Homo sapiens: one gene and its partners. The protein of the gene in region 2 interacts with the protein of the main gene of each other region in a pairwise test. Each region holds a gene or a part of one and is shown on either strand. Other genes may lie near its edges.

Region 1 (4,444 bases), on a different chromosome or scaffold from region 2:
GCAAGATGATTATATAGCCCTGTTGAATTTACAACCAGATCTTGCTTTCAAACCATTATTAGCCAAGGGTTTGATTCCACACCTGTGTTCATGGATTTTTTGGTACTAGACATTGCTGTAACTCTGTTTTCACTTTTTCATCTGTTATCTTGGCTCACTTAAGGGAGAAGGTATCAGCAGCCTAGGACCACTTGGTTTCTGTTTTTATGTTTCATAGTTCATGGCTGATAAAAATTACCTGTCCTTAGGCCGAGTGCAGTGCCTCACACCTGTAATCCCAGCACTTTGGGAGGCCGAGGTGAGTAGATCACCTGAGATCAGGAGTTCGAGACCAGCCTGGCCAACATGGTGAAACCCCTTCTCTACTAAAAGTACGAAAATTAGCCAGGTGTGGTGGCAGGCGCCTGTAATCCCAGCTGCTCGGGAGGCTGAGGCAGGAGAACACTCGAACCCGGGAGGCAGAGGTTGCAGCGAGCTGAGATCGCGCCATTGCACTCCAGCCTGGGCAACAAGAGCGAAACTCCGTCTCAAAAAAAAAAAAACAAAAAAAACACACACACACAGTTGGCCGGGCGCAGTGGCTCACGCTTGTAATCACAGCACTTTGGGAGGCCAAGAGGGGCGGATCATCTGAGGTCAAGAGTTCGAGACCAGCCTGGCCAACATGATGAAACCCCATCTCTACTAAAAATAAAAAAATTAGTTGGTCATGGTGGTGGTGCCTGTAATCCCAGCTACTCGGGAGGCTGAGACAGGAGAATCTCTTGAACCCAGGAGGCGGAGGTTGCAGTGAGCCGAGATGGCACCATTGCACTCCAGCCTGGACAACAAGAGCAAAACTCCATCTCCAAAAAAAAAAAAAAAAAAAAAAAGGATCCTCGTCCTGTGTTACATTTTCACTGTGAAAGCTACCAAGAACATTTTGATGGCAGGTGACATTAAAAATATTTTTTGCTTTTTTGGGTTGAAGGATTGTACAGGGGACAACTGAGATGCCTCAACATGTACCTTGCAAATGTTTGATATTTCTCAGTTGCCTGTTACCAGTTCTTACAAGCTCTATAGTTGGTATCTTGTTTGATAACAGCAAGTTTCGATCCACCTGAGGATGCCCAATGTGCCTTTGCCTTGTTATTGCTTTGTTCTTTCTTGAAATTTACTGAAAATAGAGGGGTTGTGAAGTCCTTTTTTCTCTTGTGTTAGACTAAATGAGTCTGAAAATCTTGAGGGTTTTAGTTTTGTCTGCTTTTAAATCACCCCTAATAACCCAAAGTAAAGCAGAAAGACAGGATTTGTTCTTCCAGTTAGTGCTAGGCTTTGAGATAAACACACCCACAGTGACTTCCAGCCTCATCCTTATATGTTGGCTTTGTAGAGGTCCTGGGACACCTTTGTTCCCTTGGTGACCTCCTTTACTATGTGGGTTCTGAACTGTCTAATGACATCACAGGAGGAGTTTTTCTGCTTTCTTGCAAGTATGCTAAGAAGTATATGTGCTGCCGCTCTATTTTCATTTCCTAAGGACAGTGTTCTGATGTTGGATGCTTCTCCTGGCTTTACTTAACTGTAGTAGACACATTTGACTTTCCAGCTTGTTAAGCAAGTTACCTAACCTGATTGGGTTCAGTTGCAATATCTGTCAAATGGGGAGAATAACATCCACTTTATAGAGTTGGTTAGTGGGAATGAAATGAGGTAACGTGTAAGAGCTTAGTGTAGTAGCTGACACACAATAGATGGTATGTGAATATTCCCAACCTACCCCTTCCAAGGAATGGCATTATGAGAGAACCACTTGTTTTTGACCTTTTCAGTGATTTAAAATTTTCCTTTAAGTGAAGGAATTGGCATTAGTCTTTGCACCCATAGCTTGGGTGGCAAGAAACACAAAATTTTTCCTGAGTTGGATGATGGTGGTGATAGGATTTGAAGTGGGGGATAATTTTCACTCATCTATGAAGGTGAGACTCCCTAGATATGCCACTTGGCCTCTTACTTGATCTCAAGATTATCACTTGTGATCCAATTGCTCTGTCTGGTGACCATGTTAAGTAATGATTGAAGTAGAATGACCAGAAAAACAGACTTGTTACTCCACCTAATAGCAATATGGCATACCAATTATAGTCTGGGCCACACATGGTAAAAGCAGATCTTGTTATATAATATTTAAATGCAAAGGTAACCACAGTTATCTATTTTAAACTACTTGTATTTTGAAGCACTCCTTGTATGGTAAGTATGTTTAGATACACGTAGACATTTCCTAGAGAAAGGTTTGGCCAGTCATAACTTTTGTTAGAGCAAGTAGGAATTGGCTGAGGAATATCTGGTTGAAGATCAAGGGCAGAACGCTGAAAGCTGTCAGTCGATGAATGAAATGATAAGTATTTAGTGAGCTTTCATAGTGTTCTAGACACTATGACTAAGGACTGCACATGGTTTGTCTCTGAATCCTCATAGTTTGTGAAGTAGAGACAGGACCAAGTTCCTATTTTGCAGATGAAGTAACTGAAGTTTGGGGAGGTTTTTGACTTATTCAAGATCACTCATCGAGTGACAAAGCCAGATTGTCAAGCCTGTCTCTGACTCCAGAACTCCATCTTAACAGCTCTGCTGTACTGATTTTGACCTAGTTTTAGGAACTATAGGAAGGAAATGTGATCAAACCCAGATCACTTTTCTAATCTACCCAGGCATTTTGTGTCCACCGTTAACATCCAAGCTCTGATTCTGGCAACTTGAAATTACTCTTGGCTTTACACTTATGTAGAAGAAAACAATTCTGTTAAACACTGTGGCCCTTCTGGAAACATGATGGTCTTTTCCTGTAGAGGCCTTTTCTTCCTTTTACTTCCTCTGTGCCAGGTCCATGGGTAATTCCCCTAAAATTGGTACCTTTCTCATAAATTCTATCAAAACTAGGGCAAAAATGATAGTTGTTGATGGCTTTTATCAGAGTTGGTAAGTTTTGATTCTCTTCTCTACATCTTATTTCCCCTTGGTGTAGCACAGTGGTTGAAAGCAGGGAATCTAAAGCCACAGACCTGAGTGAATCTTGCCCCACTTGCATCTTGGGACAAGAAACATAACTTTTATGAGCCTATTTTCATACTTGTAAAATAGGGATATTACTTACTACTGTAAATAGGCATAATACTTATACTCATTACTGTAAATGGTTAGCACTAAGCACTTAATAATCAGATATTCTTGTTAAAGTGAATTTGACTATTGAAATTAATGTTTTCTTCTCTGCAGCTATTGAAATATTTGAAGAAACTCTCCACCCTGCCTATTACAGTAGACATTCTTGCGGTAAGAACTGTGTGACTTTAAATATTATATAATGATATCCCATTCCCTTCTCACTGGAGAGTGTGTAGAATAAGGTTACAAGTATGGGCTTTGGAAGTGAAAGAAACCAGACACAAAAGGCCATATATTGTCTGATTCCATTTATATGAAATGTCCAGAATAGGCAAATCCATAGACAGAAAGTAGATTAGTGGTTGCCAGGGGCTAGGAGAATTGGGAGGAACAGGATTTCTTTTTAGGGTAATGTAAATGTTCTGGAATTAGATGGTTATAATGGTTATATAATATTGTGAATGTTCTGGAAACCACTGAATTATGTACTTTAGTTAAAGTGGTGAATATTGTTAAATGACTTTATTTCAAAATTAGAATTAAAAGAACATTGACTTTGGCATCAATTAGTCCCAGATTCAAATCTGAGTTCTATGACTTTAGGCTGTTCCTATGTAAAATGGGTCTGATTCCTGCTTCACAGGGTTATTGTAAAGACTGATTCAGAACTGTATGCAAAGCTCTTATCTTAGTGCCTAACACCTGCCCTAATCACTCTTGTTATTAAAGTTCTGAACTTGGTACGCTTTGCTACTGTGTGTCATTAGAGATTTGGGGCATAGACACAAAGTAATTTAGTGTTAAGATTTGCAGGGTATGTTGTAGGAAGGAAGTATTGCTTGTTGAGTTTCTCAAAGTAGAAAGCCTTATTTCTTTAGAAAAACGTTAGCCTAGTTCCAGACCCCTCTAACAATTACTTTGTCAAATTTTAGGAGACTGGGGTTGGGAAAACAGTAAATAGCTTGCGAAAACACGAGCATGTTGGAAGCTTTGCCAGGGACCTAGTGGCCCAGTGGAAGAAGCTGGTTCCTGTGGAACGGTAAGAACATTTCTCTTTAGGTTTGTTCAATTTCATGGTTAAATTTACAGATAGAAAAGGTTTTCTTTATTATTTCTCTTTTGCCTTCTGAAATTGTTTTGCCTCAATTATAAAAAATAATCCATGATCATTGTAGAATATTAGAAAATATTAAAAATAGAAATCAAAATTTCCTATTTCTATCACGCAAAGACAAACGTTATGAACATTTTGGTACGTTTCTTTTTTTTTTTTTTTTTTTTTTTGAGACAGAGT
Region 2 (4,444 bases):
GAAAGCAGAAATGAGACAGAATAAACTGGAGCTTCCTGCCAAAAGCTGGATGTCTGCTTACTGTGGGCCAGGTACTGTGCTGAGCCTGAGGACATAATCTCTGCCCTCAGAGGACTCCACGTTACATTAGAGAAGACAGAAATAGGACCAAACTCACAATGGCGTCAGAGTGAGGGGTTCTGCAGCTGTAGGCCCAGCAACGGGGACAGCAGAGACTTAGAAAGGTTTATGCCAAGGCCCTTTTGAGCTGGAGGCTCCCCAGGAGAGGGAGGGAAGAAGGCATTCCAGGGGGAAGCGATGCTTGTACCAAGTCATGGAGCGACATGAGAAGGCTGGAAAATAGGGAGGGAGGGGCTGAAGGAAGCATCAGACACGGGTTCTGTGGGGCATTCCCGTGGGCCCTGCCCGCCCTGTGCCCCAGGGGCCAGGCATGGAGAGCTGGATGGTGGGACGGAGCACGGGCCAAAGGCCAGCCATATTGGGTGTCAAAGGCCTGTTGCATCTCCCAACCCACAAATTCTCTTCCACCCAGCTGCTCCCTGGTTGCCTGTGAGTGGCCCAGAAATGGTTTTCTCAGCCAGCCACCTGGTCTTCCCTCCTGTCTGTTTCCTCCTGCCCAAAGGGCAGGCCCTGATTCCACTTTCCAGAAGCTTGACTGTAGAGATCCTGTTTGGCTTTGATGCTCTGTCCTGGTGGAAAGCAGCCGTGGGACAAGTGAGGTCCTAGATTCTCGCTGTGTTCCCTCTGCCCACTGCCACGAGCATTTATAAAAATAGAAAAAGCCAGCTGGGCACAGCAGCTCACACCTGTAATCCCAGCACTTTGGGAGGCCAAGGCGGGCGGATCACCTGAGGTCGGGAGTTCGAGACTAGCCTGACCAACATGGAGAAACCCCGTCTCTACTAAAAATACAAAATTAGCCAGGCGTGGTGGCACATGCCTGTAATCCCAGCTACTCAGGAGGCTGAGCCAGGAGAATCTCTTGAACCCAGGAGGCAGAGGTTGCAGTGAGCTGAGATAGCTAGCGCCATTGCACTCCAGCCTGGGCAACAAGAGCAAACTCTGTCTTTAAAAAAAAAAAAAAAAAAAGCCTAGAAAGAGCCGGGCACGGTGGCTCACGCCTGTAATCCCAGCACTTTGGGAGGCCGAGGCGGATGGATCACAACATCAGGAGATCGAAACCATCCTGGCTAACACAGTGAAACCCCGTCTCTACTAAAAATACAAAAAATTAGCCGGGCGCGGTGGCGGGCGCCTGTAGTCCCAGCTACTCGGGAGGCTGATGCAGGAGAATGGTGTGAACCCGGGAGGCAGAGCTTGCAGTGAGCCAAGATCGCGCCACTGCACTCCAGCCTGGGCGACAGAGTGAGACTCTGTCTCAAAAAAAGAAAAAAAGAAAGAAAAAGCCATTAATTATTAAGCACTGGCACTCCCTCTTTCGGCCCACATTCCTCCCCTACCTTGGACCAGGCGTGGCAGGCCCTGTGCGTTCCTCTTTCCAGGCTGAGAGGCAGCTGCTGAGTCACAGATTTGAAGTCCTTGGTACCCGTGCTGTCCCCGCCTGCCTAGCTGACCTTGAGTCCTCAGCCTCAGGAGAGCTCTGACCTGGCAACGGGAGGGAGGTCCTGCCTCCACCCTGGTTACCCCAAAGGTGACCTGACCCTGATTCTGTGGACCCAGAGTGGCTGACAGTCGTGCCCTGGAGCTGAGAACAGGACCTCACAGCCCTGCCAGGTGGTACTTGTGTCCACAGCCTGGAGCCCACACCCCTACCTTTGTCCTCCCTGAAAATGTCCCCTCTCCCTTTGCTGAGTCTCTGCTCTGGAATCTGTGGTGCCCGAGCCAGTGAGGGACAGTGGGATTTCTAAGTTTCTTTTCAAAGACAGGCCCTGGGTTCCCCAGACATTCCTCCTCAGGCCTCTGGGGCATTGCTTCATGTAAAACCACTAAAACCTCCTGAAGGAGACCCCAGAAAACCCTGGGGTCCAGGCAGGGGAGGTGCCAACCCAGACTTAATGTTGTTTTTTTTTTTTCTTTTGACCTGCACAGTTCAAACCCATAGCCCAGACTTAGTACCTTCCCTCAGCTTGGTCCGGTGTGTCCCATTCATCCAGCTGTGACAGGTTGTTACTCCACTTTCACTTCCTGTCTAGCCAGCTCCCCCATTCTCCCGTTCCCAGGCCTCTCTCCTCTGAGCCTGGAGCCATCACCCACCCTCTGGTAGCTGGTGTCTTCTCCCTAGTACTTGGCTCCACTCAGTTCCCTGCTCTGCAACTTCTAGACTATTCCCTGATCCCTCCTGGCAGCTTTGACCAGCTTAGCTTGCGCTGTGATCCAGTTTCCCTAAAATGATCTGAGACCTGCCTCTCTGCCCCCAAACAGCTTCTATTGTGTTTCTCTTTCTACCTGTCCCTGAATCACTAGGTGGCCCAAGTCGATTCACTGCCTTCAAAGGGCAACCTTTGATGTCTCTGGTTTATAGGGTGGTATACCACCCTGGCCTGCCAGCATTAGAAATCTACACACAGCCCAGACACTAACCTGGAAGTGGGGGGTATGATGTTGCACTGCACTTGGCCTTTCTTCACTCACCTCTGATGCAGTGGCTTTGCACTCTAGTTAAGCTGCAGGGGCTCCATGAAGGCCACTTACTTGGAGCATGTCCTCCGACACCCACGGCAGGAGGTAGAATCAGTAGCAATGGCCTCTTTGCAGACCATGTAACAGTTTCCAAGGGGGAAAACATTTAGGAGAGTAGCCCTCTGATCTCTTTCATGTATATCTGAACTGCTGGATACTGTTCAGGATGAGCTAAATTTGAGTCCCACTATGGAAAACAGGAAGATAGCATGGCTGTCTCATCACAAACTGAAGGTGATCTTGCCCGGCTCCTGAGTCCTGAGTTACTGCCATGCGCACAATATAGTACAGGGCTGTAGTTCAATCTTTTTTTTTTTTCAAGACAGAGTCTTGGTCCATCGCCCAGGCTGGAGTTCAGTGGCACAATCTTGGCTCACTGCAACCTCCGCCTCCCAGGTTCAGGCAATTCTCCTGCCTCAGCCTTCTGAGTAGCTGAGATTACAGGTAAGCACCAGCACGCCCAGCTAATTAATTTTTTTGTAGAGACAGGGGTCTCACTATGTTGCCCAGTGCAATGATCTTTACATCAAACTTTACAATTTGTAGATACCTCCAGACTTTTGCCCAACTGACAGGTCATAAATTCATACAGCATATATCCGCATTCCCTTACTAGGTTTATGTTATGTAACTAGTTTTTTCTTGGCATCCTCATCAGAAGGTTAATTGCTCAAGGCTAAAAGTTCTTACCTATGATTTACATGATTTGGTTTCTTTGTTGTTGTTGTTGTTTTCAATGGCTGAGGAAGATGTTTGGGAAAGCTGCCTTTGTTTTTTCAGGCTAAGTTACTGCAGCCTTGCTCTAGGATAGCAGCTTTGCACTCCTTCTCCAGATGACACAGGGCCCTCCTTTGGCTAAAACCCAGCCCTGGAGGCTCCACTTTGGCTGTTTCAAAACCTCACCTCTGTGCACAGGATCAGACTCCGGATTTGTTCCTGTGGGGCAGTTCAGCCTTTATGTCCAGGCCCAGTGGCTGGTCTGGCCCCTCTGCCTCTCACAAGGCAATGTCAGTTCTGCCCCCAGCTTGGCTGAAGGCCCAAGGCTCTGCCCTCAGCTGCCCACCAAGAGTCACTGCTTGCCTGGGCTCATCCCAAAGGAAAACTTCCACCCCAGGTCTAGGTTTCTTTTCAAAGACATCCCTTGGGCTCCCCAGCTATTATTTCTCAGGCCTCTGTCCAATGCATAGCAAGGGCTCAGCCGAAACAACCGTATCTAGGAAACTTTCTGTCCGGGAGTATAGAGCCTATCCGTCCTCCAGAGACCCTAGAACTATCACTATGTCTAAAAAGGGAAAGCAGTAGAGAACTGGATCCCTGAACCACATCATATTGGCCCCAGTAGAGTTGCCTTTATGCATCTTGATCTGATTTACATCGTCAGCCTAGATTGAGAGCTGTTTTAAGAAGCAGCCTCATAAAATGAAACAGACCAGTGCTTTCCTGGACAGTCTTTTGACAGAATGCCTCAAGAAGGCCTACCTTTTGTCCCAGGAATTGTATTTCTAGGAATTCTGTATCTAGGCCTACCTTTTGTTCCAGGTACCTAGGCTTACCCTTTGTTCAAGGAATTCTGTGTCCTAAGGAATTGGGCGGTGATTTGCACAAAACGTTTTGTACAACAAAGTTAATTAGTTTCATTCTTTTTTTTTCAGAGATAGGGTCTTGCTTTGTCTCACTGGAATGCAGTGTTGCAATCATAGATGACTCTAATCTGAAACTCCTGGACTCAAGCAGTCCTCCCACATCAACTTCTCTAGTAGCTGCGACCACAGACATGCACCACCATGCCCGGCTAATTTTACAA
Region 3 (4,444 bases), on a different chromosome or scaffold from region 2:
AGATCGAGTCTATCCTGGCCAACATGGTGAAACCTTGTCTCCACCAAAAATACAAAAAGTTAGCTGGATGTAGTGGCGCATACCTGTAGTCCCAGCTACTCGGAAGGCCGAGGCAGGAGAATTGCTTGAACCCGGGAGGCAGAGTTTGCGGTGAGCCGAGATCATGCCACTGCACTCCAACCTGGCGACAGAGCGAGACTCTGTCAAAAAAAAAAAAAAAAAAGGGCTTAACACAGTAAATTTTATGTTTTGTATATTTTATCACAATTAAAATTTTTTAAAGAAATATGAAGAAAAGGTCAATAAAAGAACATATAAAATGAAGAGCAAAGTGCTTTTTGGTTGTTTATACATAAATACATTAACTTCTATAGATTTACTCATTTTGCTGGTAAGACAAATTGCTGCTTTCACCCCACTGAAACCCCGAAGCTATAATTACAATTCCCTTTAAGAATTACCTTGAAACTCAGACCTTCAGTTGAGAAATTCTGACCTGAGTCAAATATTGCTTAACTTCCTTTTGGGCGCTGTAGGCCCATCTCTTATTCACCATCTTTCTCAATGCCTAGCAAACCTCCATCCTGATTTCAATAGTAATGCATATAGAATGCAGGCACATTGAATGTTTCTTCTTTGTTAGGAAACTTTTCAACGAGTCGGGGAGGGCTCAAGTATATTGAATAACTTGAAACTTTATCACTGTGACACAACTGCGTGACTTCAAGATCTGAAGCAGACAATTCTGAGAGAAATGTTCGCTAATAGAGGGTGTGAATATTTTTTATTTTTCTGTGCTGTCTTGCCTGTTGTTTATTAAGAGTTTGATTCTTAGGAAGACCTCTTTTACTGTATGCAGTCTTTAAAAGTGGAATTTTAAAAAGGCAAAAAAGAATTATCTTTTAAGTGCTGGTTCACAATAATTAGGAAAATTACATAAGATCCTGAATTGATGGCCCTTTGTGAAACTAACTTTAAAACAAAACAAAACTGACTGCCCCAGGTTTTCTACATTCCAGCTCCCTCTGGTGGTTAAAAATGTAGGACTCAGACTCTTGGTTATGTAAGGGTACTTAACTCTTCATATTTGGGGATAAAGTTTGAGGGGAGATGCACCTGTTTGAGATGCAGTAATCGATTTCTGAGGCAATTATGAATACTTATCTGAATGCAAAGCCACAGGTGATATAGCCACTCTTAAGAGACGATATTCACATTTCAGAGGGAAGGTGGGTAGAAGGTGATTGATTCATTTCTCACCATACCATTTTTCAGTATCTTAAATGTATACAGTTTATCATGAAATTATATTAGACCAATAACTTTTCTGATTATGAAAACAATGCATGCTCATCACAGAAAATACAGAAAAGAGTAAAAGAACAAATGAAAATTACCTAAAATCTCACCATTCAGAAAATGCCCCTCTTTAAAATTTTGCGTATCTCTTCAGTCTTTCCATATGTAATTCTTAAGTAAAATTTGGACCAGATTCTATTTTTAAATAACACCTTTATTCAGATGTAATTCACATACCATACAATTCCCCTAAAGTGTATAATTCAGTGGCTTTTAGTATATTCACAGTTGTGTAACCCATCACCACAAATAAATCAACTTTAGAAGATTTATCTGTGCCACCACCCCCCAAGAAAATCCCTGCACTTTAGCAGCCACTCCTCTTTCTTCACTCCACTGCCCTTCTGTCCCACCCCACCAAGTCAACAACTAATCTTTTTTCTGTCTGTATAGATTTGCTGTCTGGACATTTCATGTGAATAAAATCATACAGTATGTGGTCTTTTGTATCTGGCTTCTTCTATTCAGCATAACGTTTTCAAGGTTCATCCATGTTGTAGCATTTTCAGTACTTCATTCCTTTTCATGGCAGAATAATATTATGTTGTGTGGATAAACCACATTTTATTTATCCATTCATCAGTTGATGGACATTTTGATTATTTCCCATTTTTGGCTATTATGAATAATACTGCTATGAACATTTGTGTACAAGTGTGTGTGTGTTTTTTTTTTTTTTTTTTTTGAGATGGAGTCTCGCTCTGTCACCCATGCTGGAGTGCAGTGGTGCAATCTTGGCTCACTGCAATCTACACCTCCTGGGTTCAAGTGATTCTCGTGCCTCAGACTCCTGAGTAGCTAGGATTACAGGCATGTGCCACCACGCCCGGCTACTTTTTGTATTTTTAGTAGAGACAGGGTTTCATCATGTTGGCCAGCCTGGTCTCGAACTCCTGACCTCAGGTGATCCACCTGCCTTGGCCTCCCAAAGTGCTGGGATTACAGGCATGTGCCACCACACCCGGCCTGTGTACAAGTTTTTGCATGGACATATGTTTTCATTTATCTTGAATCTGCTGGATTATATAACTGTTTAATCTTTCATATAGTTTTGCATCTTGATTTTTTTTCACTTAGCTTTAGGACTATTTTTCCACATCATTAAATATTCTCTAAAAACACGATTTTTAAATGGTTATGTTATTGGATCATCCTAGGAGTTTGCGATAGTTTTTAATCATTCTCCTATTTGGGGCCTTCCAGTTTCTCCTAAGTTTGAAGAAAATGCGTACATATGCGGTCTCCACATCTCTCGTTTCCTTAAAGTGAATTCACAGAAGTAGAATTACTAAAAGGTAAATATGTTTTATGTCACTTGTCATATGGTGTCTGGGAAGATTGTGTGAATTCTCTCTCTAAACACTTCAGTGTTCTTAGCCTGTGTATGTTCGGTGGTGATTATTTAATATCAAGTGCTATAAAACAGAGCCCATGGATTTTTGAAAAGACACAGTCCCTGCCATCAAGATGCTTATGTCCAGCACTCTTTTCATCCTCCCAAACTGAAAACTCTGCACCCATTAAACAACTCCTCATTCTTCCCTCCCTCCAGCCCCTGGCAATCACCACTCGACTTTCTGTCTCTATGGATGAGACTACTCTAGGTACTTCATGTGAGTGGAATCATACAGTATTTCTCTTTTTGTGACTGGCTTATTTCACTTAGCATAATGTCCTCAAGGTTCATCCATGTTGTAGCATGTGTCAGAACTTTCTTCCTTTTTAAGAATGAATAATATTCCATTGTCTATACATAACACATTTTGTTTATCCATTCAAATGTCAACGGATACTTGAGTTGCTTCTGGCTTTTGGCCATTGTGAATAACACTGCTGTGAGCACTGGTATACCAATCTCTCTTTGAGACCCTGCTTTCAATTCTTCAGAGTATATACTCAAAAATGGAATTGCTGGATCATATGGTAATTCTATTTTTAATTTTTTGAGGACCCACTGTATTGTTTTCCATTCCCTTCCACATTTTTAACAGGATTTAAATCCAGTCAAACTTTCTAGTCCTCTGTGGGACCATCATGTGGATATAAAGGATTTATTGCCCTAGGAGGGTATAATGTGGAAGCCATTGAAATACAAAATTCTGACAATTGCCATAAAAAGACAAGGTAAGGCATATGTCCAGCTTAGTTCTACATAGTTCATTCAATAAATATATATTAGGGATTGAGTATGTGCTAGATGCTGAGCCTAAAGAGACAGTCTCTGCCTTGAAGGAGCTGATAGCCTAGTGGGAGTAATACTGACAAGAAACTGGCCAGTTACAACACATGTGGAATTTCAACATGGACAGACACTGGCTGCTAGGGGAAACACACGCAGGATGGCACCAAACCCTATCTGGGCTCGCCATCATCTGGACAGCTACAATTTGCTTCTTTACTGCCTTCACTGTACTTCTGGCACTCACAAGGCCCAACTGTGAGTCTGGCACTTTGTTAGAGGGATCATCCTCTAGTACAGATCTCAGAAAGATACTCCCTCATTTTCCTGCTGAAAGCCCTTGAGAGGTTTCCCCTTGCTTTCATGATGGAGCCAAAGCTCCTTGGCCAGTGGCAAAAAGAGCCCTAGCAGGCCTCCCTCTTGACTACTCGCAACCACTGATGGGCACGGCTCTGTGCCTTTGCTCAAGCAGCATCCCGAGCCTGGCTGATCTCTCACCATTAGTGGTTCTCAAGCCTGGCTGCACATTAGAATCCTCTGGGGAAATTAAACAACAAAAAACAAAAACAAACAATGGCAGGGCCTCACTCCAGATAGGATGAATTAGGATCTCTGAGGGTAGGGCCTGCATATTGGCTCAGCTCTCCAGGGTGACTCTGATTTAAACCACACACAGGCATACAACCCTCTTCCACACCCCAGCAGGACCTGCCAGTTAGGCTGCCATCAGCCCCAAAGACAGCTCTGGTTCTGCTCCTGGACCGAATGCAGACAACTCTATGACTGGCTTTTCTAGATGAGTCCCATTCAGTCAGAAAAGATTTAAAACACCTACTGTGTACAATGCAGCTGACAACCTTCTCTACAAATTACAAATGACAACTGTAATATTTTAAGTGTCATAAT
Region 4 (4,032 bases), on a different chromosome or scaffold from region 2:
GAAGTCAAAGGCCTTCGGGGGCAGCTAGGTAGGTTTCCCCACCCTCCAAGCCCCTTCTCTCCAAGAGTTGCAGCAAGGGCCAGCATGAAGGGGTAGACTTCAAAGTCTCTGCTCCAGAAAGCTGCCGTCTGGGCTCTTGGATCACTTTCCCCACTTTCGCTGACCCTCCACCACTGAGGACTGCAGCAGAGGGTTCGGGATACCAAAAATCTCTGCTGTAAGTAAAGAAGAGGCTCCAGGCGCGGTGGCTCAGGCCTGTAATCCCAGCACTTTGGGAGGCCAAGGCGGGCGGATCACCTGAGGTCAGGAGTCCAGGAACAGCCTGGCCAAATGGCAAAACCCCGTCTCTACTAAAAATATAAAAATTAGCCGGATGTGGTGGCGCACACCTGTAATCCCAGCTACTCGGGAGGCTGAAGCAGGAGAATCGCTTGAACCCAGGAGGCAGAGGTTGCAGTGAGCCGAGATCACGCCATTGCACTCCAGCCTGGGCAACAGAGCAAGACTCTGTCTCAAAAAAATAAATAAAAATAAAAAAGAAGATGTAGGCCTCACACCCCATTTCCTCCTCTCAAGTCCAGCCCTAACTCCCCACCACTGCCATGTCTCTTGTGAGCAAAACATATTCCCTTTTAGTTTAGCTGATTTCTACAATGAAACTAAGGGGAAATGTTTGACTTATTTACTTCTGTATCTTCAAGACCTAGCATCTGGTAGATCCTAAATAACTGTTCACCAAATAAATGAATAAACACTCCTAATAAGCAAAAATATTTTTAAAAACCAGGAAGCCTTTGCTTCTCTTGTCTCTTGCTTACAAAATAATGTTGAAATATCTCAGCATGACACATGAGCTCTTTCACAATTTTGGTCTCAAAGTTTTCATACCTTAAAAATGCCTTCAACCGGGTGCGGTGGCTCACCCCTGTAATCCCAGCACTTTGGGAGGCCAAGGCAAGAGAATTGCTTGAGGCCAGGAGTTTGAGACCAGCCTGGCCAGTATGGTGAAATGCCATCTCTACTAAAATTACAAAAATTAGCTGAGCATGGTGGCGTGTGCCTGTAATCTCAGCTACTTGGGAGGCTGAGTCAGGAGAATCACTTGAACCCAGGAGGCGGAGGCTGCAGTGAGCCGAGATCGCACCACTGCACTCCAGCCTCGGCAACAGAGTAAGATTCCAACTAAAAAAAAAAAAAAAAAGGCCTTCGGTTTAGCTATAGATGGCCAGGAGCTGCTTATCTGCCATTCAGACTCTGGGTTCCTTTCCTAATCTTTGCTTTACCTCAAATTCCAAGTCAATCAATGACTCAATTGTTTTTGTTTTTGCTGTTGTTGTTTTGGGGATTTTTTTGTTTTTTGTTTTTTGTTTTGAGACGGAGTTTCACTCTGGTCGCTCATTCTGGAGTGCAATGGCAAATCTCGGCTCACTGCAACCTCCACCTCCTACGTTCAAGCAATTCTCCTGCCTCAGTCTCCCGAGTAGCTGGGATTACAGGTGTGCGCCACCATGCCTGGCTAATTTTTGTATTTTTAGTAGAGATGGAGATTCACCTATGTTGGCCGGGCTCGTTTCGGACTCCTGACCTCAGGTAATCCGCCCTCCTCGGCCTCCCAAAGTGCTAGGATTACAGGCGTGAGCCACCGCACCCGGCCAATGAATCAATGTTTACTGAGCACCTCCTGTATACTAGCTAGGTGCTTTGTCATCCATTTATCATGTTTAAAGGTCACAGCATGCCCCTGAGGGATGTGTCATTCTCTCTTTACAGATGAAGACACCAGCCAGCCGCGGTGGCTCACACTTGTAATCCCACCACTTTGGGAGGCCGAGGCGGGCGGATCACAAGGTTAAGAGATAGGGACCATCCTGGCCAACATGGTGAAACCCCATCTCTACTAAAAATTCGAAGATTAGCTGGGCATGGTGGCATGTGCCTGTAATCCCAGCTACTCGGGAGGCTGAGGCAGGAGAATTGCTTGAACCCAGGAGGTGGCAGTTGCAGTGAGCTGAGATCGCGCCACTGCACTCCAGCCTGGCGACAGAGTGAGACTCCATCTAAAAAAAAAAAAAAAGATGAAGACACCAAGGCTCAGAAAGAGACATGCATGTGGTCACCTAGGTAGTAATCCGACTTTGGAGCCTTCTATCTCAAGCCCGCCACTCTCTGCTATATACCTCAGTGGAGCTTCAGCTTTTACAGGGACTGCGGGAAATTTGGTGATGCTGGGGGAGTCTGGAACGAGCCCATTTGAGGTCTCCTTTCCAGATACCTTTGGAGAGACTGGTCAAGGATAGAGTGTCACCATCCTGCTCTCTTTCATCCTGCCTGCCCCCAGAGGCATGCCAAAGGGAGGCTGCAGCTGCCCGGGAAGAGGCTGAACAAGCTCTCGGAGAGCGGGACCAGGCCCTGGCTCAGCTTCGGGCCCACATGGCAGACATGGAGGCGAAGTATGAGGAAATCTTACACGTAAGCACCACCCCCTGGATCCCAGCCATCCCAGTACCCAGGACTCCCCCATGCCCACAAACCCCAGCTCGTATGATGACTGACAACCCAGGGTTAAGGAGAAGGAGCGTCTCCAAGGGAGCCCTGCTCTATCCTGAGGGCAGACAGAGGGGATACGACCATGTCTACTGGGCAAGGAAAGCTTATGAACCAACCTGGGGCAGCACTCACTCCTTCCCTCTCTCTCTTTCTGGGGTCTGAAATATTGATGTCTGCAGGACAGTCTGGACAGGCTCTTGGCCAAGCTGAGAGCCATCAAGCAGCAGTGGGATGGGGCAGCACTGAGACTTCACGCCAGGCACAAGGAGCAGCAACGCCAGTTTGGACTCACCCCCCCTGGATCTTTGAGGCCACCAGCCCCTAGTCTCTAGTGTTCTCTGAGGCCCCAGCAATAAAGTGTCTTGATGTAGAACTCAATAGAGCTGTGGGCTCTGGCCGTTTGGCAGAGAGAAGTGGATCTTATTTTTATTTTTATTTTTATTTAGTTTTCTTCTTTTTTTGTTTTTGTTGTTGTTTATTTTTAGGAGTGGCTGTCATACAGACATCTCAGTTCTGGGTTGACCCATTATCCCTGAGATTCAGTGATTGATAGGAAATAAATTTGACCAGGTCTCAACCTCTCTCCTGCAGGAGCCGCATCCCACCCCTTGAGCCTGAGGCCCTTTTGGTCCCTTCACACCACTGCCCCTTACCCCCACCAACACAAACACAGGCAGTCAGATTTATGGCGAATGGCCATTTCTATAACAAATGCAACGGTGACCAAGCACCACCCTCCCGCAATGCTAAGGCACCCACAGAGGGCAGGCATAGCTGGTCTCCAAATTTTTGCATTACACTCAAGGGTCCTGGAGTCATATCTAGAAAAGGTCCAGATGGCTTCAATCCTAGCCAGACCCACAGCCACACCTTCATCCTTGGGACACAGCTCTCTAAAACTCCCATATGACATCCTCTGGAGCCTCAGACTCCTTCAGGGACCTGTCTGAGGCCTCCAACCACACCCTCTGCTGGCAGGTGGGCCTGCAGGAAGGGAGGGAGCACCTGGGCCAGCCTGTGATCGGTGGTGTCTGAGTCCCTCTGGTCTGGCTTAGAGAGAGCATCCTGCCTTCACCACCTCAGGCTGGAGAGTGAAGACACGGTAGCCCCTGAGTATGTCTGTACCAAGCAGGGGTGCTCTACAGTAGATCCGAGGCCAGAGCCCAGTCCTATACAGAGAGAGGAGGTAGAAGGTCATTCCAGGTGGGACCCAGAAGAGTTCCTTTTTCTTGCCCCGCCCTGCACTGGAATGCCCAGAAATGGGGTTTATTTCACGAGTCCTTCTGTCCCCACCTACCACGACCTGAAGTCCCAACCTGCATACCCCACACGGCTTCACCTTGTACCTCGCCCACTCTGCCCTTCTTTCTCACTCCTCCCTGCCCTCTGTAGCTACTCACAGTCCCATCTGTTTCTTCTTCCTCACCTCTGCAGCCCCAGGGGGAATCCAGGCTTCCAAGCCCCGCAGAGACCTGGCTGCCAGCT
Region 5 (3,174 bases), on a different chromosome or scaffold from region 2:
TCCTACCACAGAGAGAGGGAGAAAGAACTTGTTTTCATTCATAACTTTTTCCTTTTCCTTCTTCCGTCAACTATTTATTCAGTGCGGATTGCAGAGGGCGCAGCTCCACCGTGGTAACTTGCAATGTGGCCGCCCCTGCGCTGGCTTCTTTCTCCTCGGCCCTCGGTGAACCCAGCTTTTCCTTTAAAGCATAGACAAATCCTTGCTTAGGGTCAGCCAGACCGTGGGCTTGCTTTGGGCTCCCGCGTGGACGCTGAAGGCTCTTCATGATTTCTCAGAAACCTTGGTGGGCCACCCAAAAAGTGTGTTGGAAATCCACGGTGATCCTTAATATGGTGATGGGATTGTCCGAAAAGGTATTCTACTTCCATTCGCGTTTTCTTGGGGAAGGCAGTGTGCCGAGCGCGTGTGAGCGTGTTTGGGGCTTGTCCAAGACTGTCACTGCTTGAAAATGGGCTTTTCTTCGGATCGGAGGTGGCGAATTTTCTTTGCTTTTAATTTTTTTGTCTGGCAACTTTATTTCCCAGCCAGTATGAAGTTTGTTACAACTATCATTGGAAATGCAAATTGAAGTTGTGCCTGGTGTTATGGGTTACACTATTCAAATCCTCTGCGGTTTTGTGAATCTGGCTTAGTACTTTTAGCTACCTTTTGCTTTGAAAGCACTGAGTTAAGAAGTTCTTGAAGAAGAGGAATAATTGTGCAGGAGTCAGGATTAGATGTTGAGGACTCCGAGACTAAATCCCCGCAGGTTATGAATGTGTTACTCCTCATGCGCAAAGAAGGTAGAATAAAGTAGAAACTCGAGAGAGCTGAGTTGTGAAAACGAGGGGGAGCTCCAAGAAGTTAACATGTAAGACATAGTTTAGAGACATTAGTTTAGGAAATATAGGAAATGGACTTCTTTCTGCGTTGTTCCTTAAACCATGTTTTTTGCCTCAGGTTGGTAGTGGAGAATGGACATTTCTTTTTCTTTTCATTCTTGAATTGGGTCGACTCTGTAGACTTTAGAAGGAATTTGTGTGAAAAATACTCTAGTTCACCACTGAAAGCAGAAACTTTCATCTTTGGCAGTTTGTGAAGAACACATAAATTAGAAATAACTTACTATTAGTATGGAAACACAACTGCTTATTTTTATCTGGATATTAGTGTGCTGATTTTGTTACAAGAAGAACGTTGAATCAGAATTGGCAGTGCGTTTGAAAATCAAGGTCTGTCATGTAAATACAGATTTTTAAATCAGAGGAAATACAGATAATTAAAACTGCCAGGATTTCCCTACACTGCGTTAAAGGCCTCACACTTATTTGTGCATAAAACTTACTTTGTTTTGTGAGTGAGCCCTTCAGCTTAAAAAAAATCCTCTCAGGATTTCAAATATGAGTACTGTTATATATCATTCACTGGACTATACATTGAGTCTTGTGTGTGTGTGTGTTTGTAGCTCCAAAACACCAAGAATCGTTGTGTACCTGATACATTTATTTTTGCATCTCATAGATGAATAATAAGGTAGTTTTAAAATTCTGATTTATATAGAAAATTACCTATTATTTTGCGATTTCATTTTAAGAGTCTCAATTTTTTAATGCCTTAATTTTTTTCATCATTAATCTAATGCATATAACAGCACACAACAAAAAGGCTGTAGCACCAAAGCCATTCTCAATTTCTTAAAAGGTAGACATTTTCCTTTATGGAAGCCACCTATGAACTGATAACTGAGCTTTCTTTAGATGAGAGTTATTCTCCTGCTTATACTCAGTATTCCCTGCGAAGGCATGCTCCATTTTAATTATTAGATTCACAAACAGGAAGGCATTACTTTCTCCTGATTCTGCTTCTTAAAAGTTGGAAAAACTTATAATGTTCATGGCATGGGGTCTCTTGTTTATAGTCTTCCTCTATGATGTGGTCCCCAGCCTCTCCTAGAATTGGACTCTGGCCAGGACCCCAGCATCATTGTAATCCACTGATGAAGGAGGTCATTACTAGGCGGTTTAGGCAATTTGTGATTTGACAGGATTCCCCCCCCCCAAAAAAAATGCTTCCTGTCATTTATTTTCTGTTTTTTTCATCTTTGATTTCGTTTTAGGATTTCAGATGCATGCCAGGTTTCCACTGATTGCCAGAACTCGAGATCACTACACATGGATCCCCAAAATCAACATGGCAGTGGCAGTTCGTTAGTTGTGATCCAGCAGCCTTCTTTGGATAGCCGTCAGAGATTAGACTATGAGAGAGAGATTCAGCCTACTGCTATTTTGTCCTTAGACCAGATCAAGGCCATAAGAGGCAGCAATGAATACACAGAAGGGCCTTCGGTGGTGAAAAGACCTGCTCCTCGGACAGCACCAAGACAAGAAAAGCATGAAAGGACTCATGAAATCATACCAATTAATGTGAATAATAACTACGAGCACAGACACACAAGCCACCTGGGACATGCAGTACTCCCAAGTAATGCCAGGGGCCCCATTTTGAGCAGATCAACCAGCACTGGAAGTGCAGCCAGCTCTGGGAGCAACAGCAGTGCCTCTTCTGAACAGGGACTGTTAGGAAGGTCACCACCAACCAGACCAGTCCCTGGTCATAGGTCTGAAAGGGCAATCCGGACCCAGCCCAAGCAACTGATTGTGGATGACTTGAAGGGTTCCTTGAAAGAGGACCTGACACAGCACAAGTTCATTTGTGAACAGTGTGGGAAGTGCAAGTGTGGAGAATGCACTGCTCCCAGGACCCTACCATCCTGTTTGGCCTGTAACCGGCAGTGCCTTTGCTCTGCTGAGAGCATGGTGGAATATGGAACCTGCATGTGCTTAGTCAAGGGCATCTTCTACCACTGCTCCAATGACGACGAAGGGGATTCCTATTCAGATAATCCTTGCTCCTGTTCACAATCACACTGCTGCTCTAGATACCTGTGTATGGGAGCCATGTCTTTATTTTTACCTTGCTTACTCTGTTATCCTCCTGCTAAAGGATGCCTGAAGCTGTGCAGGAGGTGTTATGACTGGATCCATCGCCCAGGGTGCAGATGTAAGAACTCCAACACTGTCTATTGTAAGCTGGAGAGCTGCCCCTCCCGGGGTCAGGGTAAACCATCATGATTTTTGGAGGTGGGTTGTACCTCCTGAACTTTTAGCTTTCAAGTTGTGGCTGTTTTTTGTT
Region 6 (4,444 bases), on a different chromosome or scaffold from region 2:
CCTTCTCATTCCCTTCTCCTCCTCAGAGGGCAGAACGGTGAATAATTTAGCATTCCAGACCTAATATACCTCATCCCACCTGAAGGATCACCCTGTTCCAGGTCAGTCTGCTGATAACAGGGAAAGTTGGGAATTTGCATTTTGGATCTTAGACAAGTTGTAGAGACAACACTAGAAGTAGTATCACATTTTCTTCCTCCGTTAACACACTCCCGGTTGAAGACACAGGAGCCTAAAGGAAGATATGTTGGGGATTGTTTGTTCTGTAGCCTTTGGGATCCTGTGATCATTTTGAAACAAGGAACCACAATAAGAAACACAAAGCAAACATCGGCTCCACAAAGGTTCCTTCACAAACGCTTGGTGAGGGTTTCTGTTCTTATCAACATATTAGGGGGAAAACCCAGTCCAAGTCCCCCTACCTTGTACCCTATTTTTTTCTAGGACATTCCAATTATTCTTCATTGTATTAAAATTTGAATTTATTTTACCTTCGAAAATGTGAAGAATTTCCCTGCATTTTGTCTTTTAGGCATTGGAACCTGCTTTTGGAAAAATTTCACCTCTGTCAGCTGATGAAGAGACAATACCCAAATACGCTGGCCACAAGAATCAGAGTGCCACTCTCCTGGGACAAAGATCGTCATCTAACAATTCAGCTCCTCCAAAGGTGACCCTTTGTGCTTATCATCTGTAAAGAGAAGCAGAGGTTCTGTACCCAAACACACACATCCCATCAGCTCCTCACCACACAATTTCACCTCCCTGGGTGAGCATGGTGCTCCCTGGAGTCCTGTGTTCTTCCAAGGACACGGGTACATGCCTTTCAAACAAGATCCTAACCCTTAGCACTTCTTGCTGTGGAGCAGATTCCAAGTCCTCCCGGCTGCTTCCCTCTGAGTACACTCACAGCAGCAAGCGTCTGGCTGGGGCCGAGGGGACTTGGGGGCTTTGTTTCCGTGGGTGCAGGCTGCGGAGGTGATGTGTGTGGCACTGTCTCCACCCGTGAGTCTGAGGGCTCGCAGCCTCCCGTGCTCCCTGCTTCTGCACTGCGGTCTTGCACCTGCTGCTTGTCGGCGTGGACTCCTCTGAACAGGGGTGGCGCTGTTAGCTTGGGAGCCACAGTACAGGATGCTATTTTGTCTCTTGTTGGGAATAGGCCCCCAGATCTGGCCATAAACTGGCCCCAAAACTGGCCACAAACAAAATCTCTGCAGCACTGTGACATGTTCGTGATGGCCATGATGCCCACGCTGAAGGTTGTGGGTTTACCAGAATGATGGCAAGGAACACCTGGCCCACCCAGGGTGGAAAACCGCTTAAAGGCGTTCTTAAACCACAAACAGTAGCATGAGCGATCTGTGCCTTAAGGACATGTTTCTGCTGTGGATATCTAGCCAGAGCCCATCCCTTTGTTTTGGCCCATCCCTTTGTTTCCCATAAGGAATACTTTTAGTTAATCTATAATCTATAGAAACAATTTATCACTGGCTTGCTGTCAATAAATATGTGGGTAAATCTCTGTTCACGGCTCTCAGCTCTGAAGGCTGTGAGTGCCCTGATTTCCCACTCCACATGCTATACTTCCGTGCGTATGTCTTTAATTCCTCTAGCACTGCTGGGTTAGGGTCTTCCTGACCGAGCTGGTCTCGGCAGTCTCTATCACATTTTTCTTTGTTAAAATTAGCTCCTCTTTAGAACATTCTCCCAGCCAGTGTGTCTCTTCCTGTCCCAGCTTTGTGTCACCCTCATACTCAGGAAGCAAATCTCGTGAGTCCACAGCCAGCAACTGATACTGGGTTGATGTGGATGGAGAAGGCGCCCCCAACTCCTGAAGATGATTTATCCCCTCGCATTCTTTCCCAAAGCAACTGCTGAGCAGATAACACTTTATTCCCTGAAGGAAGATCAGAAATCTACTCCAAGCATTTGTCACAAGTAGGAAAAGAGCCTTTTCAGATCCTATGAGTACAAAACATCGTAAGTCCCAGGGTGGACTGCACAGGCCCAGCCTCCTGTGAGACGCGGACTTCTCTCATGCTCCATCATTGACCTGAGTTAATCACAGGCATGCGGGGCAATGTACGAGTAAATAGATAACTGAATGGGTGGCTTATCCACGCCTTGAAACCATCAATTGTTAAATAGTGCAAAATGTAGAAAATTATTTTTATTATGCATTTTTGAATTGAGTTTCAAGCACTTTATTTCACTGTTGACTTTACAATATCAGCCATGTATTGGAATCCCAAATTTCACAAGAGCGTGGGCTGTAAAATGGGGAATGAGAGACACTAAGTGTGGATACCTCATGTGTCCTTCTGTAGGAAGGGGGAGTAGAATCATCTACATTCTGTGATAGCTGGTATGATGTGTTGCTTAACATTTAAAAATAATATAATTGTTACTAATGCAAAAATATTCCCACATTTGTTTTCAGCCAATGAGTTTAAAGATAGAAAGAATTAGCTCGTGGAAAACACCACCACAGGAAAATAGAGATAAAAATCTTTCCAGGAGACGTCAAGACAGAAGAGCAACACCTACTGGAAGGCCAACTCCCTGTGCAGAGAGACGGGGGGGTGTCTGAAGATGGAAAGGTGGCCTCGGACACCTGTGTCACTCTACACTGGCCCCTTGGAAAATTCAGATTCAGATAAAGTTCCACTTAGGTCTAATAAAAGTACTCAATTTGTTATTCAAAATAGACCTAGTAATTTATTAAACTAATTATGTTTCTATAGATAAAAACTTGAAGTTCTTCAGACATGTCTCTAATGCTATAAAAGCAAACAACTTGGATTGGGTTTTATAAATCAGTTGCTTTCCTGAGCTCTGTAGTTGGTATATTTCTGCAGAGTCTTTAAAAAAATTAACCCACCTTGTAGTATGGAGTGTCGGGCTGTTGGGTGAGCCCTGGGGTCTTGCTGGAAATCGAGGATGGCTGAAGATGGCTTTGTGCTCCCAGCCTTTGGGCTCAAGGCATTGCCCGCTCCAGGGACCTTGTGACAAGGCGGGCCTGTGACTGTCATTGCCCCAGGCTATGCATCCATCTTCCCGAAGTCTGCAAAACTTGAGTGGCAGAAAATCACCAGTGCAGGCTTCCCAGGCCGCCATGCTGCAGGAGCAGATGGCAGCAGCCGGAGGAGCTGGTGAGCAGAGTTGGGGACTCCTGTTTCTATGCTCCCCGTGAAATGCGGGGCTTTCTCGTGGATACGCGTGAGCAGAACATCTTACTATGGCAAGGACATGTCCTTCCTGGAGCTGCCTAATTTGTGGCCACTTTTTGTCTGATTCCCTCGTTGGGTCCTCACCTGTGAGACTTGCCAACACCCCCAGCCCTCCACCCCACACACAGCCCACATGCCGGTCTCCAGGGGCCGTGACTGGAGATTCCGAATCCTAGCGGTCACTTCCCTCTGAGCACACTCCCAGCAGAAGGCGTGTGGCTGGGGCTAGATGCACTTGGGTGCTTTGTTCCCCTTTCTCCATTTGCCAGCCCATGGCATTGCTGCCACCCTGATGGAGCGCCCTCTCATCTGGCACCTTCCTGGCCTCTTTCCCAGGCCCCAGTTCTGTCCATGCAGCTGTGGGTGCTTCCTGCATTGCGGGTCTCACGGGGAGGAGACGAGAGTGCCCCTGGTTGAGTCAGGAAAGAATTCTATCTTCACGTCGCTGCCAGCAAATGACCACAGCAGCTTCACGACCTCTGCAGGAACCTATCTTGGTAAAGAAACGGGGCCTATGTGGTGGCCGAGCCTCAGGTGTGGCCGAGCTTCAGGTGTGGCCCTTATGCACAGCACAGCCCAAGCCTGTGGGCACCACTCGCCCTGGGCTGCCTGGCACCTGGACTCCTTCCCATCCTTGGCCGAGGTCTGCGTGGCCCTTCAGGGCCGAATCTGACACTGTCTTCCTCCTGAGTCTGCCCCCCGGGCTTCCTGCCCACCCCCAGGCTGTTTCATGGCCTCTGCAGGGAGCTTCGTAGAGGTGAGGCTGGTGCCATCTGTCTGCTTCAGACCACCTCAGGCTCTGCGTGCCCTCACAGTCCCCTCTGCACTTCTCTGTGGGGCAGGGAAGCCCTTCCCATCAGGTCTGCTCCAGCCTGGCTACCTTGTTCCTGCTGTCCCCTCCCCTTCAGGCCCCCGGACAAGACTTCAGTGTACTTGCTGGTGCCGGGCAGAATGGGGGACCTTGCCTCTCACACACACCTGCTAGTATCTCCGCAACCTCCAGGCATCATCTCAGCTGACAGTGACGCCATCCTGGGGAAGCTCCCCTGACTCCTGGCTCTCCTGGAAGCCTGTGGTGCTCCTTCACAATGGCCCGTGGCCCTTCATAGGTCCCGTAAGCCAGTGTCACAGGGATTCGGCTTTTCTCTTCTGTGTTTGCCTGCTGCGGGACTGTGAGCAGCTTCAGGGCCAAGACAGTGCCTTTCCATCCGTGA
Region 7 (4,444 bases), on a different chromosome or scaffold from region 2:
GGATGTGGTGGTGCGTGCCTATAATCCCAGCTACTCGGGAGGCTGAGGCAGGAGAATCGCCTGAACCCAGGAGGCAGAGGTTGCAGTGAGCCGAGATCGTGCCACTGCACTCCAGCCTGGTGACAGAGTGAGACTCCATCTCAAAAAAAAAAAAAAAAAAAAAAAAAGTTACTGTTTTCTATTAGTAATTTATTCATTTGTTTTGATCATTATGGGTTCAACATCTCATTTTGTTTGAGGGGTTGTAAGTCATACTATTATTTATTTTGATGTTGAGATTATTTCAACTTTGGCCCATGAGAGCTGCTTCAAGTTGGCTTCCATGGCATTTTGACATGTTCACGATTCTTTGAGCACTTTACTACTTTGTGATGCGGGATTATTCTAGGCTCATCTTCTGTCTCTCTTGCTATAAGCCTGTTCTCCAAGGAACCCACGCTCTTTTAAATATTTTTATCCATTAATCTGTTTACTCATCTGTTAATCTATGAAAAACCATGAGTTTCTCCTGATACCTTCAATTCCAGCCTAATACCACAGGGCTCATTCTTCCCCCTTTCATGTTTGTAACTTACTTCCCAGAAGTTAAGAACCTGGCTCTCATTACCCTCAATATGTTTACTCCTTTTCTCAATCCTAGAGGTCACATAAGATAGTCTCAGAATTGCTAGCCCATACCACTACAGAAAACAAACCTGCTAACTGGAATTGAATATTTTTGTACAATGCCTATTAAGTGAAATGGGTATACATGGAGTGCAGATTTTAAGTATACAGTGCAAAGAGGGAGTATTTCTTTTCTTTTTTTTTTTTTCTTTTAAGACAGGGTCTCGTTCTGTCTCCCAGGCTGGAATGCAGTGGCATAATTATAGCTTACTGCAGCCCTGATCTCCTGGGCTCAAGTGATCCTCGTGTCTCAGCCTCCTGAGTAGCTAGGACTACAGGCACCTGCCGCCACACCTGACTAATTTTTAAATTTTTTTTAAGAGATGGGATCTCACTATGTTGCCCAGGCTGATCTCAAATTCCTGGGCTCAAGCAATTCTCCCACCTCAGCCTACTGAGTAGCTGGGACTACAGGTGTGCCTCACTGTAGCTGGGACTACAGGTGTGCATTGCCATACCTGGCTACTTTTAAATTTTTTTTTAGAGACAGTCTTACTGTGTTGCCTAGGCTGATGTCGAACTCCTGGCCTCAAGTGATCGTTTTACCTCAGCCTCCCAAAGTGCTGGGATTACAAGGTAAGCCACAGTGCCTGGCCTGCAATAAATTTTGATAAATGGATATATCTGTGTAATCTACACCCCTGTCAAAATGTAGAACATTTTCATCACCCCAGAAAAGTTCTCTTGTGTCCATTCTCAGTTAATCCTCCCTTGTCCCCCCTTCTACAGGCAACACTGTTCTAATTTCTGTTACCCTAGATTAGTTTTGCTCATTCTTGAATTTTAAATAAACGGAATTGCATAGTAAATCTTATTTTGTATCTGGCTTCTGTCACTTAACATTTTTGGGATTTGTTAGATGTATCAGTATTTGTTCTCTGTTGCTGTGAAGTATTTCATTGTGTGACCATACCAGAATGTGGCCATTTTTACAGCCTACCATGTTGGGTAGATTGTATGAGAGTTTAAAAGCTCTAGAAACCCATCACATGGGGGCGCTCTGTGATTGGTAACCTGGGTGTGGGTAGTATGTGCTGCCTGAAACTTAGACTATCTTGAAAGTTAAGAAGAGGAAGAAAACCCCTGGTTTTCCTTTTTATGTTGTAATTTAAGTCATATACATGCACCTGACATCATGCAGAAGTTTTTGCCTGTGCCAGTTGAAAAGCAAGATTCTGATGATAGGTTTGATGCTTTTCCCCTAATCTGATAGAAAGATGATGACATTGAAGAAGGAGATCTTCCAGAGCACAAGAGACCTTCAGCACCTGTCGACTTCTCAAAGATAGACCCAAGCAAGCCTGAAAGCATATTGAAAATGACGAAAAAAGGGAAGACTCTCATGATGTTTGTCACTGTATCAGGAAGCCCTACTGAGAAGGAGACAGAGGAAATTACGAGCCTCTGGCAGGGCAGCCTTTTCAATGCCAACTATGACGTCCAGAGGTAAAGCAGCAACAACCAGCTGAGAGACTCATAGGCTGTGCTCGGTCTTTTCTTTATTATTATTATTAATTATGATGATGATGATGATTTTTTTGAGACAGAGTTTTGCTCTTGTTGCCTAGGCTGGAGTGCAGCGGCGTGATCTCGGCTCACTGCAACCTCCGCCTCCCTGGTTCAAGCGATTCTCCTGCCTCAGCCTCCCGAGTAGCTGGAACTACAGGCGCCCGCCACCATGCCTGGCTAATTTTGTATTTTTAGTAGAGACAGGGTTTCACCATGTTGGCCAGGCTGGTCTTGAATTTCTGACTTCAGGTGATGCACCCGCCTCAGCCTCCCTAAGTGCTGGGATTACAGGCGTGAGCCACCACACCTGGCCCTGTGCTGGGGCTTTTCCTGAGGCTCTTAACAGGGTGTCCTTTCTGGCCGTATTTCCCAAGGGCCTCTGCCTTTCCTTTCTAGGTTTTCTTTTAAAATTATTTATCTATCTAGTTTGTTTTTTTTTTTTTTTTTTTTGAGACGGAGTCTCACTGTGTTGCCCAGGCTGGAGTGCAGTGGCGCAGTCTCAGCTCACTGCAAGCTCCGCCTTCCCGGTTCACGCCATTCTCCTGCCTCAGCCTCCCGAGTAGCTGGGACTACAGGCACCTGCCACCACGCCCAGCTAATTTTTTGTATTTTTAATAGAGACGGGGTTTCACCGTGTTAGCCAGGATGGTCTCAATCTCCTGACCTCGTGATCTGCCTGCCTCAGCCTCCCAAAGTGCTAGGATTACAGGTGTGAGCCACTGCACTCAGCCTATCTAGATTTTTTTAATGTAAAGAAGAGCGTTGCCGGGTGCAGTGACTCACTTCTGTAATCCCAGCACTTTGGGAGGCTGAGGTGGGCGGATCACGAAGTCAGGAGATCAAGATCATCCTGGCCAACGTGGGGAAACCCTGTCTCTACTAAAAATACAGAAAAATTAGCGGGGCATGGTGATGCACGCCTGTAATCCCAGCTACTCCAGAGGCTGAGGCAGGAGAATCGCTTGAACCTGGGAGGCAGAGGTTGCAGTGAGCCGAGATTGCGTCACTGCACTCCAGCCTGGCGGCAGAGCAAGACTCCATCTCGGGGAAGAAAAAAAAAAAAAAAGGGCATTTATTGTTGGTAAAAGCAGTTAAGTTTTTGTTTTTATTTTTTGAAGAGGCGAGGTCTCACTATGTTGCCCAGGCTGATCTTGAACTGCTGGCCTCAAGTGATCCTTGCACCTCAACCTCCCAAAGTGCTAGGATTACTGTCACTGGCAACCATGCCTAGTGTGTGTTTTTTTTTAATATCTCAGTTGATCCTAAAGTTTTATTTATCTTTGGATCTTTAGCTTTTATTTCATCTGAACAGAAGGGTGTATAGCTTAGTTTAGACTCTTTGAGGGACAAAGTTAATAGTTTGACAGCTTCAGCTAGAAGTTTCTGCTCAGTGGAAAGTGCTTTGTGTGTAGCTATGTTCACACATAGAGCTTGGACCATGCTGTTAACCGATAACTAATTTAGTATGAAGAGGCTCAGTTTTCACACTTGAGTATGGTCCTGAGGTACAATTTTAAGAAATCTGCTTCTTTTTCCTCAAAAACAGTTCTGAAATTTGGGGTCTGCAAATATTCTGGTTTAGGAAATATAAAAGCAATGACAAGAAATGGGAGGAGTACTTAGAGAGTGTCCGGCCAGCAAAATATTTTCAATTAGCTTAAATAGACACCTAGACAGAACAAATAAATGTCTTGGTGATGTCTGCTCCAGAAGGCCCACTGGTCTCTGTGGAGTGGTGGGAGCATTAGAAACTGAAGGGGGAACGCGTGGTGTAGTCCCTAAGGAACAGAAGAATCTTGCCCGCTGGCCACACTAGGGCTCCACCCAGGCCTCATTCTTTCCGCTTTGTTCCTTGGGACCTTTCGAGTGTGGACGAGCTGGGCAGCTTGCTGCTAAGCTCAAGGGCTAGGATTTTTGTCCAACAACCAAGTGTCCTCTTGAGTCCTTCATAGCCTCTTATCATGACCCACTCTAAGCCATTGGTTTTCCACCTTTATCAGCAGAAGTCTTTTGTCCCATAAAAGTGTAACTGGACACTCTAGAATATAAAACAGATACAGATCAGATCGAAGCTGCCTCTTTACCTCCCCAGCAGCAGCCCCTGAGCCACCTCTGCAGTGTCCTAGGGAGGTTTTCCAAATGTTCACTTTTAACACGGGCATCCATTTATACAACAAAGGAACATCCAGTGTCTGTTTCTATTTTGATCTGAGCTGGATGTTTAATAGTTCAGCAAGCTAGTATTTTAATACATGAGATATCAGTAGCT

The links.
Region 1: the proteins of CDR2L (region 2) and ELOA interact in binary tests that used the Homo sapiens proteins (3 or more experiments, as listed by UniProt).
Region 3: the proteins of CDR2L (region 2) and TCEANC interact in binary tests that used the Homo sapiens proteins (3 or more experiments, as listed by UniProt).
Region 4: the proteins of CDR2L (region 2) and DRC12 interact in binary tests that used the Homo sapiens proteins (3 or more experiments, as listed by UniProt).
Region 5: the proteins of CDR2L (region 2) and SPRY1 interact in binary tests that used the Homo sapiens proteins (3 or more experiments, as listed by UniProt).
Region 6: the proteins of CDR2L (region 2) and TCP10L interact in binary tests that used the Homo sapiens proteins (3 or more experiments, as listed by UniProt).
Region 7: the proteins of CDR2L (region 2) and MESD interact in binary tests that used the Homo sapiens proteins (3 or more experiments, as listed by UniProt).

Annotation. Positions count from the first base shown.
Region 1 is NC_000001.11:23,745,760-23,750,203, forward strand, and holds part of ELOA (elongin-A), read left to right. Parts: intron 1-3,261; coding exon 3,262-3,318; intron 3,319-4,082; coding exon 4,083-4,189; intron 4,190-4,444. UniProt on the Homo sapiens protein: SIII, also known as elongin, is a general transcription elongation factor that increases the RNA polymerase II transcription elongation past template-encoded arresting sites.
Region 2 is NC_000017.11:74,990,337-74,994,780, forward strand, and holds part of CDR2L (cerebellar degeneration-related protein 2-like), read left to right. Parts: intron 1-4,444.
Region 3 is NC_000023.11:13,655,408-13,659,851, reverse strand, and holds part of TCEANC (transcription elongation factor A N-terminal and central domain-containing protein), read right to left. Parts: intron 201-4,444; 5' UTR 166-200; coding exon of another isoform or gene 84-165; intron 1-83.
Region 4 is NC_000011.10:119,189,147-119,193,178, reverse strand, and holds the end of DRC12 (dynein regulatory complex protein 12), read left to right. Parts: coding exon 1-28; intron 29-2,338; coding exon 2,339-2,469; intron 2,470-2,537; exon of another isoform or gene 2,538-2,612; intron 2,613-2,726; coding exon 2,727-2,879; 3' UTR 2,880-2,925; downstream 2,926-4,032. Other genes in the region: NHERF4 (Na(+)/H(+) exchange regulatory cofactor NHE-RF4), read right to left, coding at 3,687-3,716, 3,974-4,032. UniProt on the Homo sapiens protein: Component of the nexin-dynein regulatory complex (N-DRC), a key regulator of ciliary/flagellar motility which maintains the alignment and integrity of the distal axoneme and regulates microtubule sliding in motile axonemes.
Region 5 is NC_000004.12:123,399,439-123,402,612, forward strand, and holds part of SPRY1 (protein sprouty homolog 1), read left to right. Parts: intron 1-101; exon of another isoform or gene 102-356; intron 357-2,098; 5' UTR 2,099-2,153; coding exon 2,154-3,113; 3' UTR 3,114-3,174. UniProt on the Homo sapiens protein: Inhibits fibroblast growth factor (FGF)-induced retinal lens fiber differentiation, probably by inhibiting FGF-mediated phosphorylation of ERK1/2. Inhibits TGFB-induced epithelial-to-mesenchymal transition in lens epithelial cells.
Region 6 is NC_000021.9:32,574,920-32,579,363, reverse strand, and holds part of TCP10L (T-complex protein 10A homolog 1), read left to right. Parts: intron 1-532; coding exon 533-670; intron 671-2,440; coding exon 2,441-2,590; 3' UTR 2,591-4,444. Other genes in the region: CFAP298-TCP10L (uncharacterized protein LOC110091775), read left to right, coding at 533-670, 2,441-2,590. UniProt on the Homo sapiens protein: May be involved in transcriptional regulation. Has in vitro transcription inhibition activity. Acts as a tumor suppressor in hepatocellular carcinoma (HCC) cells.
Region 7 is NC_000015.10:80,979,618-80,984,061, reverse strand, and holds part of MESD (LRP chaperone MESD precursor), read left to right. Parts: intron 1-1,879; coding exon 1,880-2,112; intron 2,113-4,444. UniProt on the Homo sapiens protein: Chaperone specifically assisting the folding of beta-propeller/EGF modules within the family of low-density lipoprotein receptors (LDLRs).